Regions from separate parts of the Homo sapiens genome. Here region 2 is linked to region 1. Evidence: fine-mapped expression QTL. A gene starts in region 1. The other region holds a variant in brackets. All regions are shown on one strand. Distances are between the middles of the regions.

Region 1 (5,377 bases):
GCAGTATGTCTTGGACAAAGTGGCTGCTCCATAAATGTTTGTTGATTGATTTTTATAGTAGGTGCTCAATAAAATATGTATACCACCTGTGATACTGGGAACTATGTATTTGGTCTTCATTCCCATTTCCTGACATATAGCTCCTAAAACCCTTGGAATCCTCAGAGTGATAAGAGTGTCTTTTGTATGCTAATGAGATATCTGGTGGCTGGAGCCCTGTAGTAAGCTTCAGGATGGGAGCTGGTCATCTGGAAATGACAAGACATGATTAGAGAGTGGGGACTTTCAGCCCTATCCCCAACCTCTAGGGAGAAGGGGTTGAAGGTTAAGTTGGTCACTAGTGGCCAATGTTTTAACCATCATGTCTACATAATAAAGCTTTCATTAAAAAAAAAAAAGGAAAAACACAAGACTGTGTTTAGGGAGCTTCCAGATGGCTGAATATGTGGAGGTTCCTGGACGTTGTGCCCCCAGAGAGGGCACGGGAGCTCCTTGCCCGTTCCCATATGCCTAGCCCTGGCCCTCTCTTCCACATGGCTCTTCATCTGCATCCTTTGTAATATCCATATTAATAAATGGGTAAAGGTAAGCAAAGTGTTCTTTTGAGTTCTGGAGCCACTCTAGCAAATTGAACCATTATTAATTGAACCTGAAAAGGGGCTTGTAGGGACCCCGATTTATAGCCCACCAGTCAGAAACCCACAACCTGGGGCTTGTGATTGGCATCCAAAGTAGGGTAAGTCTTGTGGGACTGAGCCCTTAACCTGTGGGATCTGACACTATCTCCAGGTAGCTGGTGTCAGAATTGAATTGAATTAGAGGACATGCAGCTGAAGTGTCTGCTAGGGAATCTGCAGAATGGGATGCTTGGTGTGTAGGGAGACAACCCCCACACACCTGGTCACAGAAAGTGTTCTGTATTCAGTGACTGTGACAGTATTGAGCATAGCCAGAGAAAAAGTTGCTTTTCCCCACCACCCCCTCACCGGCCCTCAGACCACCTTACAAAGAATTGTACATATCTCAACTTATCAGAGACCTACAACAACTTGCAAGGGATTCTTAGTTCATTCTCAGTTTTCAGATGGGCAATCCAACTCAGAAGTCAGGTGATTTGCTCAAGGTAAAAATGCAGGTCTCTTGAAACCAAAGTTTGTGTTTTGGTTAAGGGCTTGAGCTTTGGCTGGGCACAGTGGCTCAAGCCTGTAATCCCAGCACTTTGGGAAGCCGAGGCGGGCAGATCACAAGGTCAGGAGATCGAGACCATCCTGGCTAACATGTTGAAACCCCGTCTCTGCTAAAAATACAAAAAATTAGCCAGGTGTGGTGGCGGGCGCCTGTAGTCCCAGCTACTAGAGAAGCTGAGGCAGGAGAATGGCATGAAACCAGGAAGCAGAGCTTGCAGTTAGCTGAGATAGAGCCACTGCACTCCCGCCTGGGTGACAGAGCGAGACTCCATCTCAAAAAAAAAAAAAAAAAAAAAAAAGAGCTTGAGCCTTGACGTCAGATATCCAGACTGGATTTTACCATTTAAGAGACCCTGGACCCTTCCTTACTGTCTTGGAGCCTCAATGTACTCATATACAAAATGGGGATAGTGATAATAGTACCTACTTCATAGGGTGGTTGTGATATATGATGTCATACATGTGTCTAGCACATGGTTAATGCTACATATACATTATTGAAAATATTATTGTCACTAATTTGACACATCACACTGCCTCCCTGGAAACAAACTTGTTAACTGTGCCTCATGCCTAGAGCTCAGTAGACACTCATCAAATATTGAATCCCTTCTTTGAATATGTGGGCTAAATCAGGGATCCCAAATCCCCAGGCCACAGACCACTACCAGTCCGTGGCCTGTTAGGAACTGGCCTCACAGCAGGAGGTGAGCCGTGGGTGAGCAAGCAAAGCTTTGTCTTCATTTATACCCACTCCCTATCATTTGCATTACTGCCTGAGCTCTGCCTCTTGTCAGATCAGCTGAGGCACTAGATTCTTATAGGAGCACAAACCTACTGTAAACTGCGCACACAAGGGATCCAGTTTGTGTGCTCTTTATGAGAATCTAATGCCTGATGATCTGTCACTGCCTCCCATTACTTTCAGAGAAAACCATCTAATTGCAGGAAAACAAGCTCAGGGCTCCCACTAATTCTACATTATGTTGAGTTGTATAATTATTTCATTATATATTACAACGAATAATAATAAAAATAAAGTGCACAGTAAATGTAACACACTTGAATCATCCTGAAACCATCTCCCCATCCCCAGTCTGTGGAAAAATTGTCTTCCATGAAACCAGCCCCTGGTGCCTAAAAGGCTGGGGACTGCTGGGCTAAAGAATCATGTGGTTCTATCCTAGATTATCTCCTGAATAGTGTTTCCAGCTCCAATCAATCAACAACATTACTCAGCCCTCACCCCCTCCTTCCTGCTTCCCCCACCAGCTGACCCAGCAGAGCCAGGCACCCGGCTAACTGTGGGCAGCCAAACGAGGTTGGAAGTTGGACAGGCTCACCCATTATTCACCATACCTACAAATCAGCTGGAGAAAGCCCAGGCTGGCGGCCAGACAGAGGGCTCGTGGGCCAGAAAGGGAAGGGCTTGGCAGAGACAGCGCCATGGAGATGACAGGTTGAGGTCACTTGCTCCTTTCTCCGGGGCAATGGGTGACAGAGACAGCCATGCAGGCCAATGGAAAGGAAGACCAGGGGGAATGTCCTGAATCAAGTCACCAATGGGAATCAGTTTCGCTTTCTCTCTGTCTCTCAGGGCATGAGACCAGCCAGGCACTGGGAAACAAGGTTTGGTGCCAGAGATTTTGGTGGCTTCCAAGACTGCTTTTTCAGAGACAGGTACTTGAATTCTTGCTTTCAGCTGAGGGGTCGTTCCGTCCATGCTCTGGGAGTTTGGGAGTGTGTCTGAATAGGGTCAGGGGACAGTGATGGACAGGCCACTGTGCCAGGACACACCACATTGCTCGCTCACTCCTCCTCCCTGGCAGCTGGTTATTCTTAGCCACAGATTGCTTGCCCTTTCAACTTAGTTTATTAGAGCTGTTTTGAGAGAGTTGCTGGACATGGGAGGCTGATGTGAAACAGCGAAGTCAATAAGGTCACTGGTGGCTGCAGGACAGCTCTACTCAAGCTGGCCCCCACCAGACTGCTCTGGCCTGGGCCCGTTCCCTTCTCTTCCCTCAGCCCTGGCAGGCCCACTCTCTCTCAGCTGACCAGCCCACTGTACAGCAATCAAATTAACGTATCAAATTAGCACAGAAATGCATAGACTGCTCGAGGAATAGGAATATCACACTAAACTTCATTGGAGGGCTTTAAAGTCTCATAGTGCGAGAATCTTCAGAACTGGAAGAGAAAGCAGAGGCCACTAACAACCAAGCCCACGTTTTTCCTGCCAACAGCCCTTGCTGAGGAAGCTGCCCAGCCTTCCAGAGGAAAGGTGAACCTCTGTGTGTGGGTGGCCATGGTTTGTACCATGTGGCCCAGTACCCTGATTACTGTGCTTTGGACAGAGAAGGGCAACTATGCCAAGGGCACATTCAGAGGCTGGTTTAGCCCAGCAAGTTGGCCTGGTGCTAGAATTTTGTCCAACAGGGGATGCAATGACCAACTGGTACAACTGCATTTTCTCTCTCTGGAGTTTAAACCTGAGCCATACAGAAAGAGTCAGAGCAGGAACAGATGGGGAAAGCCAAAAACAGGGAAGCAAAGGCAGGCGGGGATGCTGACAGTGGAGCAAGGCTCCGTGGGTGAGGGGTGGGACAGAGGGTGCCAGCCTCAGGACACCTGGCCCGGGCTCCGGGATGTCTGTCCCCTGCATTTCCATTCAGACTCTCCCAAGGAGCCCCCTTTATGAGACCGCCTCACTGGGTCTCTCTTATTTACCACCCAAAGGAGCAAGTAATCCATCTGTTCTGTGTTACAGATGAGGGAGTGGAGGCTAGGAGACCACGGACTGCTCCTCAGGTTACAGAACCTGTCCAGGACAGACAGGGGGCCGGTGACAGTGGCAGATGGCAGAGGAGACTGAGTTCAGCTGCTGAAACTTTCTGTAATGTCCTTATTATTAGAAACAACTTTGTAGACAGAGTTGAGTTTTGAGTTGCTCATGGGTCATGCCCCTCACCACTGCTCCTCAGGTAGTTCTGGGAGCAAAGACTACAGCTCTGTGGTTTTCTGTCAACCTTCCCTAGGTTGTGCCCATAGGGAAAATGGTTTAGGAAAGGGGGATGAAGCCGGGCATGGTGGCTCACGCCTGTAATCCCAGCACTTTGGGAGGCTGGGGCCGGCGGATCACAAGGTCAGGAGTTCGAGACCAGCCTAGCCAACATGCTGAAACCCTATCTCTACTAAAAATACAAAAATTAACCTGGCGTGGTGGTGGGCACCTGTAATCCCAGTTACTCAGGAGGCTAAGGCAGGAGAATTGCTTGAACCTGGGAGGCGGAGGTTGCAGTGAGCCGAGATCTCGTCGCTGTACTCCAGGCTGGGCAACAGAGCAAGACCCCCTTTCAGGGGGAAAAAAAAGGGAAGGGTGAAGAATGAGTAGAAAACTCCTCCAAATGCAGACCTACTTACTGGCTAGGTGTTCTAAAGGCAAATCCAAGCCAGTTTTGTGTTACTCTCTAAAAGCCCATGGAGATCTTGTTGCTTATACACCAATATTTAATGGAAAGTGAGCTTATGGGGTTATCCTCTTTATCTCACAAGAAACACCAATAGGCTAAGTCTTATTCTGAGTGGCTGAAGACCTAAGGAAAAAACTGTCAAGACCAAACTTTGTCTGGATGGGAAAATCCTTAAAACAAGGGGTATAGCTCCCATTTCCCTCCTCACAGGCTCATGGACACAGCACGGATTGCAGTTGTCGGGGCAGGTGTGGTGGGGCTCTCCACGGCTGTGTGCATCTCCAAACTGGTGCCCCGATGCTCCGTTACCATCATTTCAGACAAGTTTACTCCAGATACCACCAGTGATGTGGCAGCCGGAATGCTTATTCCTCACACTTATCCAGGTGAGAGATTTCAGCTCCTCTATCAGATACAATAGATGTCAGATAGAATGATGTTAGTGGAATTCTATTGACAAAAGACAGCTGGCTATAGGTGTAAGTGTAATATGCAGGTTTTTTTCTTTTTCCTTTCCTCTTTTTCTCTTTTTTTGAGACAGGGTCTCACTCTGTCACCCAGGCTAAAGTGGAGTGGTGCAATCTTGGCTCACTGCAGCCTCAACCTCCCAGGCTCAAGTGATCCTCCCATCTCAGCCTTTCGTGTACCTGGGACTACAGGTGCACACCATCATGCCTGGCTAGTTTTTGTATTTTTGTAGAGACAAGGTCTTGTCTTGTT
Region 2 (5,377 bases), 86 kb after region 1:
TACTACGTATGCAGACACTGTGTAGTTTCCACCTCATGAAAACAAGTGAAAATCTCGGCTTTCACTGGATCCACTCTAGGTATATGGCTTCTGTTTTTACTGCCCATGATAAAAATCTAAAATATATTACGTTTTATTCTCTTAGCCATCCCCTGGTGTGTTTCAGTCTTGCTCACATTTGAACCATTTTGACCTACACAGAAAATGTGGTGAATTTAAAGATGTCAATTTAAGAACAAACTCCAACTCAAATTTGTTTAGCCACTCTTTCCAACTTATCAAAATAACTTAGAGGATAAATCCAGAGTTGAGTGTTTATTCCTTCTTGTCTTATATTTTTTATTCCTTCCTAAAAGTTATCAGGACCTGCTTGAATTATAATGCATTTTTTCTTGTCAGAGCTGATTTGATTTCTGGCTCCCCTGCCTCCCAGCCTACCCTCTGTGTCATGCTGCAGAGGCGGCAGATTGGCGCTCTGGATTTGAATTTCAGCATGCCTGCTGTCTGCTGCCAGAGACATTTAGCAGATGGGCTTGCAGAGAGAGAGAGCTGGGTCTTGACAGGGAGGGGGCCTGAGGGGAAGAGGCTCCTATGGGACGGGCTGGCTCTGCCCGTTCTCACCTTGTTGTTTTGACCCTGGCCCACTACTGGGTCTGTCACAAGATTAGCAGAGGCTCAGTTTTTTATTGTTGTTGTCTTTAATATCCAGCACTTTGCTTATGACACATAAAGGTGTGGAATTCTTCGAGTTTTCCTCTGAGGGGTTTGCAAAGCTTCTTGAATCTTTAGGCTATATTTTCCATCATATTTGGGGGGTCTTTCAGTCATTCTTTCTTCCTTTTTTTTTTTTTTTTTTTTTGAGGCAGGGTCTCACTTTGTCAGACAGGCTGGAGTGCAGTGGCACAGCATGACTCACTGCAGCCTTGACCTCCCAGTCTCAAGCAATCCTCTCACCTCAGCCACCAGAGTAGCTGGGATTACAGCTGGGATTTACTACCATGCCTAGCTAATTTTTATATTTTTGTAGAGACAGGGTCTCGCCATGTTGCCCAGGCTGGCCTTGAACTCCTGAGCTGAAGTGATCTGCCCGCCTCAGCCTCCCAAAGGGCTGGGACTGCAGGTGTGTGCCATCGTGCCTGGCCTCATTATTTCTTTAATTTTTTTTTTTCCTGCACTGCATTCTTTCTTCCCCTCCTCTGGAATATCAGTGACATGAATGCTAGACCACTTGGTATTGCTGCACAGGTCCCCAAGGCTCTTTCCCCCCTGCCCACAATAATTTTTCTCTCTGTTTTTCACATTGGATACTTTCTATTGATCTGTCTTCAAGTTCACTGGCTCTTTCTTGTGTCAAATTCTTTCTGCTATTGAATTCATCCCCTGAGATTTTATTTCAGTTATTGTATTTTCTGTTCTGGAATTTCCATTTGGCTCCCTATGCTTCCTATTTCTTTGCTGAGACTTTCTATCTTGCCCTTGGTTTCAAGCATGTCCACCTTTACTTCATGGATTATTTTGTAAATGTTGCTCTTAAGTCTTTGCCAAAAATTTCAACATCTGTATCAGGCCTACATTGGCATCTGCTGATTGTCTTTTTCCCACATAAGTTGGGATTTTCCTGATTCTTCATATGCTTAGTAGTTTGGGACTGTATCCTGAAAATTTGAATATTATAAGGCCGAGTTTTGTTTAAATACTGTGGATAATGTCGATATATTTGTTTTAACAGGCAGTTATCCTGGTTGGGTCCAGGCCTCAAGTTCCCACCAGCCTCCTGTGGGTTGTAATTTCCATGTCAGCTCTGTTTTCAAAGGCTTGGTAGGGGTTTCACCTCTGTCCCATGTGTATCCCATGTATGCCCAGGCCAGTCTGGGGCTTGGGCAGAGGTCTGTCTGTCTGTTAGCTCCAGAGGTCCATCTATTAGCTCAGTTCTCAGTCTTTGCTGTGCCAGGCAGGATCAGATCCACACATGCACAGTTCTAGAGTGAGCCCAGGTGCTTTACAAATCCGTTAATGGGGCTGCCTTCCCAAGCTACTCCTTCTCCCCAGTTTCCCCAGTATTATCCAGTTCCCTACGGTTTTTGAATCTATGACCAGAAAGTTTGGGCTTTTACCCCTGCTTTGCCTACGCTCTGCTTCACACTTCCTGTGACTGTGCCTGAGTCCAAGGCCAAGCTGCGGGAAGAGAGAGACAGACATAGTCAATGAGGATTCACCCCACTCTCTGGGGTCCACTGCCTCAGAGAGGAGAGGAAACTTCCGTTTTCGCAGAGTTCTAGGTGCCTTCAGGCCCCCACTGTGGCTTCTACCATCTTAGTGGGATTACTTGCAAGAAC[G/T]GAGAAAGGAAAAAAAAGGAGGAAAAGTGAGGATTTCCTCTACTATCCCTGAGCATCGGGAGACGCCCCGCCTCCTGGAGCCTGAACTGCGGGGCTGCTCCTGGTGCTTCCTGGCTGCGCCAGTGCCCACCACCGGTGCCAGGCAGCCTAGAGTAGGGCGGGCAGGACACCAGAAGGAAAAGCAATGGTGACCTGGCTTCTAGTTTCGAGGTACTTTGAATTCTGGTCTTCTTCTCCAATCTGCCTGCTACTGTTTACTTTTCAGATTCCTCAAATAACCGCTCTGTGCATTCTGTCCAGGTTTTACTGCTGCATTCCGTGGGAGGCGCGGGGTGGGAGTGTGCTTACCCAGAACGGAAACTGAGATCCTTTGTTTTTAAATGAAATTTTTGCATGGGTTACCTGAATTTTAAACATCACTGCACAATGTATAACTGATTCTTGCTCTTTCTGAAGCAGGGCCGGGTCTGAGAAACAGGCCAATTACAGGAGAAGGCTGAGGGGAAGGCACGTGAAACTGCACCCGGCACTCCCCTCGCAGCCTTCAGAAGCGCTGGGCACACACTGAGGGCGTTACAGAAACGTAACGGCAGTGCTCACAGCCTCAGCCAGGGCTAGAGTCATGTTCTGTCCAGATACCATTTTGTGCCTCTCCCTCCCCCAACTACTCCCACCCCCACCCCCTCTAAAAAGGAATAAACAGTTTCCTTCAGTCATTGTTTCCTGCCCACTAACAGATGCTCTTAATTAGCACAAAATTGCAGCAAAATTGCTAAATAAATCTATTTTACTTGTTTTGGATTTGTTTCTCCCAGAAAGCTTAGGCTTCTCCATCGTCAACACATCAACACACACTCACTTTATTGCTGAGTTGGAGTCGAGGACTCACAACCTAGTTCCTTGTTCATTTCCACGCACACAACTGTGATGCACAGAATTGATGGTTAGCCATCTTTCCCAGCAGAAAACTGCTGGTTTTAAAACCCTTCAGGAGCTCACTGGGGTGGGAACATGCATTTGGGAGTATTGAGACTTTATAAAAAATATCCCAAACACTCTATCAGTTATCTATTGTGATAAAGAAACTGATCATTTACATTAGTCATCATATAATTTCATCCTCCAAAGGACTGTAGCCTTGAAACACAGAGGAATGGGGCATTAGAAGCATCCTTTTGGTTTATTTTATACAAAAAATGTAGAAACATGCTTGTCAAGCTGATGGTGGCACCATTTTTTGGTAATTTCTTCATGGGCTGCCTAAGGTCATTCATGGGTGTGAGGATATGGTCTGTGAAGGAGGAAGCTGTTATTCCAAATTTTACAACAAAGAAAGCTTTTGCATAACACAGAATCGATAGCTCTCTTTTCTAGGTCATGAGTGGGCCTGCTTTTTTTCCTGTAAATTTTTTAAATGCTACATGGTCTTGAATTAATATATTTCTATTATGTACATGAGTGTAAGCTGGTAGGCAAAGGAGTATTTTAAAATATTCCCTTTTTTTGGCATTATCTTTTAGGAGTAAAATCTTGGAATTCAGCTTCATGGCTTGAGAGAATCACTTTCTTTTTTTCAAGAAACAAAACTTTATGCTGAGATCACAAATGACAAAAATATCCCAAAGCCTCATGGCTGTGCTTGTTGCAGTCTTTTTGAGTCAAATCCATTATCTCCATGCACTGAATGACTCAGTGATCACTTTTTACCCTTCGGGAAGTAGAATCTCAGATATCTGCAAAATAGCCACTAAATAACATGAACTAGTTGCGTATGGAATCTTCTGCTGTCCTTAATCTGAATTTTTGGAATTTTTCTCTAGTAATGAAAACATTTGCCTCTCATTAGAAGAAGCCTGCTCACTTTTCAATGCACATTGTCTGGACAAGGTGCCAGATAAGGCCTTTGCAAAACTGAAAGGAGGCTGCTTCCTTACATTGGAAATCAGGACCACGCCTGCCCTGAGAAATGCTTGTCTGAGGTGGGGCAGGCCCCTCTGTATGAATGCCCTGGTGGTTTAGAAATAGAGGGGGTCCCCACTCCTGCAGGAGCTCAGGAACAAAGCTGCTTCTCTGTGGCAACTCATTGTAATACCTCATTTGACATTTCAGCTCAGGCCTCCTGGGGACAGACAAACAGACCAATCCAAAATGATGTTATTTCCAGCCACCTCTGCTTAAGCTGCTGCTTTACCTGTCTGAAGAGGAAGTACAGGTGGCAGGCAGGATTGGGAATCCACGTTCCCACCTCCTGGGAGCAATAGGGGTGGCGTTGTTATGGCCACTTGATATTTGAAACACGTGGATGATAGGCATTTAATGTACCCTGGCATTTAGGGAATTGTTTGGAGTAAAATCACAATGATTAAAAAGAGGTTTTAAAAAGGGAAAGATGATTTTTGTCCTTTTCTATTTAACCTGCCATTGACGTTTTAAGGTGCTCAGAGAATTCTCTTTGTGGGAATTTGGGAAGGACAAATGTTGATGTATACACTAGAGAATTAAGACAAATGATAATTGAAAGAGATGATAAAAGCTAGCGGTTTCCATGGGGAAATAATCACAAACTGCTGTCAGACTGATTCCAATAAGAACATTGCTTTATGTGAAATGTTTTTTAAACAGCTCAACCAAAGCATTAAGCCAGAGCACTTCTGAGGGCATCTATTTGCGGTGTTTCTATTATATCCCCATCTGAGACTCCTCAACTTAACATTATTCACTGTTCCAGCTGCTGTGCTTAGCTTCTTTGTGGTCAACACTCAGTTGGAAATGAAAAATATTAGGTTGCAAGAAGAATACTATTTGTGGACCCTTAAGATCATTCTATAGTTTCACCATATTGATTTACCATATGGATTCTAAATTATTGATCTGTGAAGTTACTTTTGTATGTTAGCTCAGGTTAAATGCTGCTACTGTGTTTAAGATGTCTTTAATAATGCTGGAAAGACCTTTGATGTGCTTTTGGGCTTCTAGTAGTGGAGACTGCTTCCCATGCTCTGCCTTTGTATTTTCAGTCATTTATTTTGGAGTAATACTCA

What was found. PIP is the estimated chance that this variant, and not a neighbour inherited with it, causes the effect.
Region 2: its variant is fine-mapped to the expression of DDO in blood mononuclear cells (TOPMed, PIP above 0.99).

What each region holds. Positions count from the first base shown.
Region 1 is chr6:110,412,957-110,418,333 of GRCh38, reverse strand. DDO (D-aspartate oxidase) reads left to right here and starts at 2,759. Exons shown (of 5, transcript NM_001372108.2): 1 at 2,759-2,867; 2 at 4,868-5,043. The coding sequence starts at 4,872. LOC105377936 (a long non-coding RNA gene) reads right to left here and starts at 2,690. Exons shown (of 2, transcript XR_942856.2): 1 at 2,547-2,690.
Region 2 is chr6:110,327,142-110,332,518 of GRCh38, reverse strand. All of the region lies in intron 1 of METTL24 (methyltransferase like 24), which reads left to right. Among named protein-coding and RNA genes, the nearest start is that of METTL24, 29 kb to the left of the region's middle. RefSeq lists an enhancer at 1,919-2,419. The variant G/T (reference allele first, on the strand shown) is at 2,337.